Homo sapiens: one gene and its partner. The gene in region 2 interacts genetically with the main gene of each other region. Each region holds a gene or a part of one and is shown on either strand. Other genes may lie near its edges.

Evidence for each region. Genes that interact genetically often act in the same process or in processes that back each other up.
Region 1: changes in COPS5 (region 2) and UBA3 together harm fitness less than expected from each alone (positive genetic interaction), as found in Homo sapiens cells (one large-scale study listed by BioGRID).

What each region holds. Positions count from the first base shown.
Region 1 is NC_000003.12:69,073,866-69,077,365, reverse strand, and holds part of UBA3 (NEDD8-activating enzyme E1 catalytic subunit), read left to right. Parts: intron 1-1,855; coding exon 1,856-1,936; intron 1,937-3,500. UniProt on the Homo sapiens protein: Catalytic subunit of the dimeric UBA3-NAE1 E1 enzyme. E1 activates NEDD8 by first adenylating its C-terminal glycine residue with ATP, thereafter linking this residue to the side chain of the catalytic cysteine, yielding a NEDD8-UBA3 thioester and free AMP.
Region 2 is NC_000008.11:67,042,579-67,045,133, forward strand, and holds the end of COPS5 (COP9 signalosome complex subunit 5), read right to left. Parts: intron 740-2,555; coding exon 655-739; 3' UTR 501-654; downstream 1-500. UniProt on the Homo sapiens protein: Probable protease subunit of the COP9 signalosome complex (CSN), a complex involved in various cellular and developmental processes.

The DNA of each region.
Region 1 (3,500 bases), on a different chromosome or scaffold from region 2:
AATTTTGGACTGATAGTGTCTATCTTAAGGCAAGTGTTCACTTATATGTCACTTTTTTTTATTACAGGGTAGGGAAAAGTATAGCACATCTTTATGTGCTTTTGTATTTATAAAAAGATAGTATTTTGAAATAGAAATATTGTGTTACTCCCATAAATTAACGTGCAAACTCTTGGTTTGGCCCAGTGTCTCATGTGAATAACTTTCTCCTTTAATGCTGGGCAGAACTGAAAGCATTAAAAATAAAAAAAAAAAAAAGAAAAAGAATTGAAAGTATTAATTCTGTCTTTCTTTAGATAACACACCATATTTTCTTGTGCTTCTAAATTTTTTTTTTTGCCTGATAATTTAAGATTGTTACTTCTGTTAAATGATTGTATTTCTGCTGATAAGGAATTTTCTAAGAGTTTTATATGTTTTCGTGTTATCTCATGTTTTGTGAGTTTCGCTCACTTTATTCAAAAGGAGATGTTGGCCAGGTAAGGTGGCTCACGCCTGTAATCCCAGCACTTTGGGAGGTCAAGGCGGGAGGATCACTTGAGCCCAAGAGTTCCAGACCACCCTGGGCAACATAGAGAGAACCCATCTCTAAAAAAAAAAAGAAAGAAAAAAAGAAAAGAAAAAAAAATTAGCTGTGCATGATGATACATGTCTTTGGTTTCAGCTACTCAGGAGGTTGAGGTGGGAGGATTGCTTGACTGCACCTGGAGGTGGAGGCTGCAGGGAGCTCTGATCATGCCACTGCACTCCAGCCTGGGTGACACAGTGAGACCCTGTCTCAAAAAGGAAAAAAAAAAGCAGCTGTTACTCTTTCCCCTTCCATCTGCCGCAGATGGAGTTTTGCTTTTGTTGCCCAGGCTGGAATGCAATGGTGTGATCTTGGCTCATGGTAACCTCTGCCTCCCAGGATCAAGTGATTCTCCTGCCTCAGCCTCCCAAGTAGCTGGGATGACAGGCGCCCACCACCACACCTGGCTAATTTTTTATATTTTTAGTAGAGACAGGGTTTCACCATGTTGGTCAGGCTGGTCTTTCCTGACCTCAGGTGATCCACCCACCTCAGCCTCCCAAAGTGCTGGGATTACAGGTGTGAGCCACAGTGCCCAGCCCTGTTACTCTTTTTACCTTATTGTTTTACTCCTTTAAACACTTTGGGCAGTGCTTGATCCTCTGTTTTTTAAATTTTTAAACTTTTATATTTTTAGGAAGTCAGTTAACTGAATTTGATGTTCTCTATCCCTTTGCAAAAATTAAAAAACAAATTAGAGATAGTTTTCCTTGTTAAAAATACCCTTTAACTTTCATACAATAAAAGGCAATTTAAAAACATTAATGGCCGGACGCGGCACCTCATGCCTGTAATCCAAGAAACTTTGGGAGGCTGAGGCGGGCGGATCACTTGAGGTCAGGAGTTCAAGGCCAGTCTGGCCCACATGGTGAAACCCTGTATCTACTAAAAATAAAAAATTAGCCAGGTGTGGTAGTGCACACCTATAATCCCAGCTACTCGAGAAGCTGAGGCAGGAGAATCACCTGAATCTGGGAGGCGGAGGTTGCAGTGAGCCGAGATCCCATCAGTCACTCCAGCCTGTGTGACAAGAGCGAGACTCCGTCTCAAAAAAAAGAAAAAAAAAAGAAAAATTAACATTGAAACTTCCTGAAATCATTAGAGTTTTAGAATTCCTGGTTCAATAGAATTCACAAATTTCAAATAATTGAGCAAATACAAAGTCTCCTCTTTATCCTAGTGGCATTTTTTCCTGGAAACATCAGAAACTATTTTAAAGTTTGTTGCTTTATTTATAGTCTTTGCGGTTATCACCCAGCTTTTAATATGCCTTTCCATTCTTTACAGTCTCTCCAGTTCTTGTTAGATACATGTAAAGTTCTAGTCATTGGAGCTGGCGGCTTAGGATGTGAGCTCCTGAAAAATCTGGTAATATATATACATATATATATAAATATTTTTTTCTTCTTTGTGATAAGTAAACCTTACTTATCTGTCATACTAGGGAATTTCTCGTGATTCTTAACCTTTTCTCTTGAGCCTTTGTTAGATAAGTTTAGCATGCCAAATTCCAAACAGTAATTAAAATGGTAGAACTTTGGAACTTTTTAAATTCTAAAGCTCTCAGCTATAAAGTTATTGATAAAATTTCATACTTCAGTTTTCTTCTCTGATCTTTAACAAACAACTTTTGGTGCTTCCTCTGGCAAAACGCTCCTAACTTCAATGAAGTAAATAACAAAACTGGCAATTCATATTTTAATGTATAGTTTCAAATAATTTATTATTTCTTTTGCTTCCCCAAATAACCCAGCTAGGTGGGTAAGGCATTACCCCATTTTATATAGAGGGAGACATTGAGGTTTAGAGATGTTGACTGAGTTGCTGAAGTTTTTGTGGATTATAGCGATTTGCCTGGAATTGAATCCAGGTCATCAGTTCTTAGTTAAGTGTTCTTTTTCAGTGAACCATTAGGTCATTTTATGACCTAATAAGACGATTGTGGACACCTAAGGTTTGGGAAAGCTAAACCTTTACTGAACTTATTTGCATATATTTAGAAATAAATTAAGTATATAATTTGATTTAATTAATTGGTTTCCTTGACTTTTTCTAATCACAAAGTCGCTTTCTATAAATTTTAATGAGTTTATGTAACAAATGAGTAGAGGCAGAATTGGTTTAGAGTTGTATGCTAGGCTTCTCACTGCTGTGTAGAAAAGTGGAAATGCTGGAATAGACTCTTTAGAAAATAAAGCAGGTCACAGCCAGATGGAGGACCCAAATAATTGGCCAAGGGGGTTAAAGTTTAAATATAAACATAGCCACATTAATTTTGTTAAGAAACACTAATGTCGCTTGAGTGAAGTTGTAAAAACTTAAATATACTTCACTGTATTTAATGTCTTGCTGGGTTCTGTGGGGATTATATGTCATCGTGGTCTCTGTCTTCAATCAATCTGAAGTTTCATTGGGGAGATAAATCTCACATGAAATAAATAGCAGTATGCATGATATACTCTGTGGTGGAATGCCAAAATGACAGTACCGTATCAAACATAAATACTCTAGCAGTGTGAGAACCAAAGACTTAGAGAAGGAAAGGGTTTATGGAGGATGGGCATTGGTTTTTGTTAGGTATTATAAATGTACAAGTTTCCTAAAGCTTATTAAATTTTGAAGCCATTATTTGCAAATGTGACATTTACTAATTTTAAGTGTAAAATAATTGAAGATTAGATCTGAAGATTAGTCACCAAGCAACTTTAAGGAGTGACCTCTTCTTTATTGCATTATAGTAATCTTTTACACAAAAGAAGAAAACTAAGGGTTTTCAATTTTACTCCTTGTTTTGCTTATTTAATTCATTGTAAGCCCCCTAAAGGCTCATTCTAACAAAAAAGAATATGATACTAGACTGGGCATGGTGGCTCACACCTGTAATCCCAGCACTTTGGGAGGCCGAGGCAGGCGGATCACAAGGTCAGGAGAT
Region 2 (2,555 bases):
TCCCCTCACAGCAGTATCTTTAAGTTCTTGTTAATTAAGCTTTAGCCTCCAGAAGTTCTGTGAGGACAGTGGCCATGTCTAGCTTGTTCAGCATATTTCCAGAGAGTAACAGTCACCAGCTCAGGAAAGGTATGTGATGAATATTTGAAGGACTAGATACCCTGTGCTAGGCTGTCTCTAATAAGTATTTGATTTTCAGGAAAATAATTTATGGTACTACTCAGCTAATGTTTTGTAGGAACATTAAAAGTGTTCCTAATACATTATTAAAATAATGAACTGTTAAATTATATTTTACTTACAGACAGTCAAAAGAAGGGACAAATTGAAAAGTGGTTCTGACAATCAGTATGGCAAGTGAAATGCTGAAATTGACTAATTTAGATAGTCTAAACTTAAAAATAGAAAGTTCTAATAAATATATTTTCTCTCATATTCAAGAACCGTAATGGATACTAGAAAAATATTGCGAATCTTCCCACAAAAAAATCAAAGGACAATTTCATTTTAAAGAGCTTTATTACAGGATATTAATATTTAGGACACTTCAGAGCACCTTATACTTCTAATCAGATTTTGGGTAACTGGTTTTAAAGTGTTACTTGAATATTTTTCTCATACTGTCTTTCAGGTAAAGTACTTCTCAGAGACTGTTTAAGAGATGTTAATTTGATTAAACAGTTTATCCTTAATAACCTGAGACATCAATCCATGGATAGCTTCTATGGTAGTTTTACAGCTGGAAAAAAAAACACACATCACATGATGTCATAAATTGAAAACTATTTCAAACACACAAGATCAGCCCCAATCCATCCATGTAACTCCAATGAGTTTAGTTTTATTCATACTTCTCAAACCACCCCAATCTGAAGTTTTCCCTTGTGATTTTATTAGTCTTCCCCATGTCTTTTTGACCATTTCATTACTTACTAGAACTTTCACAAGAGAATGACAACGTAAAATTTGATACAATTGTTCTGTTTTAGAAGGTGAGTAAAATTATACAAACCTGTAATTAGAGATTGATTCTAATATTATATTATATTAAAATCTGTTATTCCTTGTTTATTACTTAGGATAATTTGACAAATAATTTTAAAGAATACTATGCTTTTTTCTGAAATAATCACAAGCATCCTCCAACAATCAGAAGTCAAACTTAGGTTAGCGGGTGAAGGCCTTAGATTTTAGAAATGATAAAAAGTATAAGGCAAAAGAAATGACAAAACCCCACCAATACTCAGAAGAGATGCAATTCTTGTAAAGCTACCCCAAAAAGGAAAATTCTCTACTTTTGATTACTACTTCTGTTCTATTTCTTATATAATTGAAGACATTGCCATAGTAAAATTTTTGCTTCATAATTAATAAATGTAGATAAACTGATAAATGACATACATAAAGACAGATGAACAAAACACACACTCAAAGCAAGTATCTAAAATGACTCCTGATGCCAACGAAAAATACTTTTTTTTGGAGACAGAGTCTCACTCTGTCACCCAGGCTGGAGTGCAGTGGCACAATCATGGGTCACTGCAACCTCTGCCTCCTAGGCTCCAGTGATTCTTGTGCCTCAGCCTCCTAAGTAGCTGGAACCACAGATCTGCGCCACCATGCCCAGCTAATTTTTTTTTTAAATTTTTGCAGAGATGGGGTTTTGCCATGTTGCCCAGGCTGGTTTCAAACTCTTGAGCTCAAGCAATATGCCTGCCTTGGCCTCCCAAAGGGCTGGGATTATAAGCATGCGTCACCATGCCCAGCCGAAAAACGCAACTTTTATGCAGGCCACTAGCTCTACCTTCTAAAAACCCACTGAGAAGATGGCAGTGAAATAAGGCTAACCCAAAATGACCTCCAATCCCAGGATACACTTTAGCTACTCTTTTCTCTTCTTTTCCCTATAAACCAAACCAGTTCTTAAAATAGATACCAACATATAAATGTTTATAGAAGTCAATATGTTTCTTCCTTCCTTTCTGCCTCTAATTATTGCATTACAATTCAAATTTCTTTTCTTTCTTTTTTTTTTTTGGAGACAGAGTTTCGCTCTTGTTGGCCAGGCTGGAGTGCAATGGCGCCATCTTGGCTCACTGCAATCTCCACCTCCTGGGTGGAGGTGATGCTTCTGCCTCAGCCTCCTGAATAGCTGGGATTACAGGTGCCCGCCACCACGCCCGGTTAATTTTTGTATTTTTAGTAAAGATGGGGTTTCACCATGTTGGCCAGGCTGGTCTTGAACTCCTGATCTCAGGTGATCTGCCTGCCTTGGCCTCCCAAAGTGCTGGGATTACAGGTGTGAACCACTGTGCCCGGCCTAAAATTCAAATTTCTGTGAAAGTAAATGTTATTAATCTTTGCAACTTTGTATAGCCTATATATCTGAAGGTCCACATAATTATTTCGTAAGTTATTAAAGAACACATCCCAAATTTGTTCCTAATAAAATCTTTGGTAGTAAAATTTGGGATACTAAATTACTGTTTTAGAAGCACAATTTAAGAGAGAGACAATCACTTCTGTAATATCTTAGGATTTAAAGCTTTATTGAA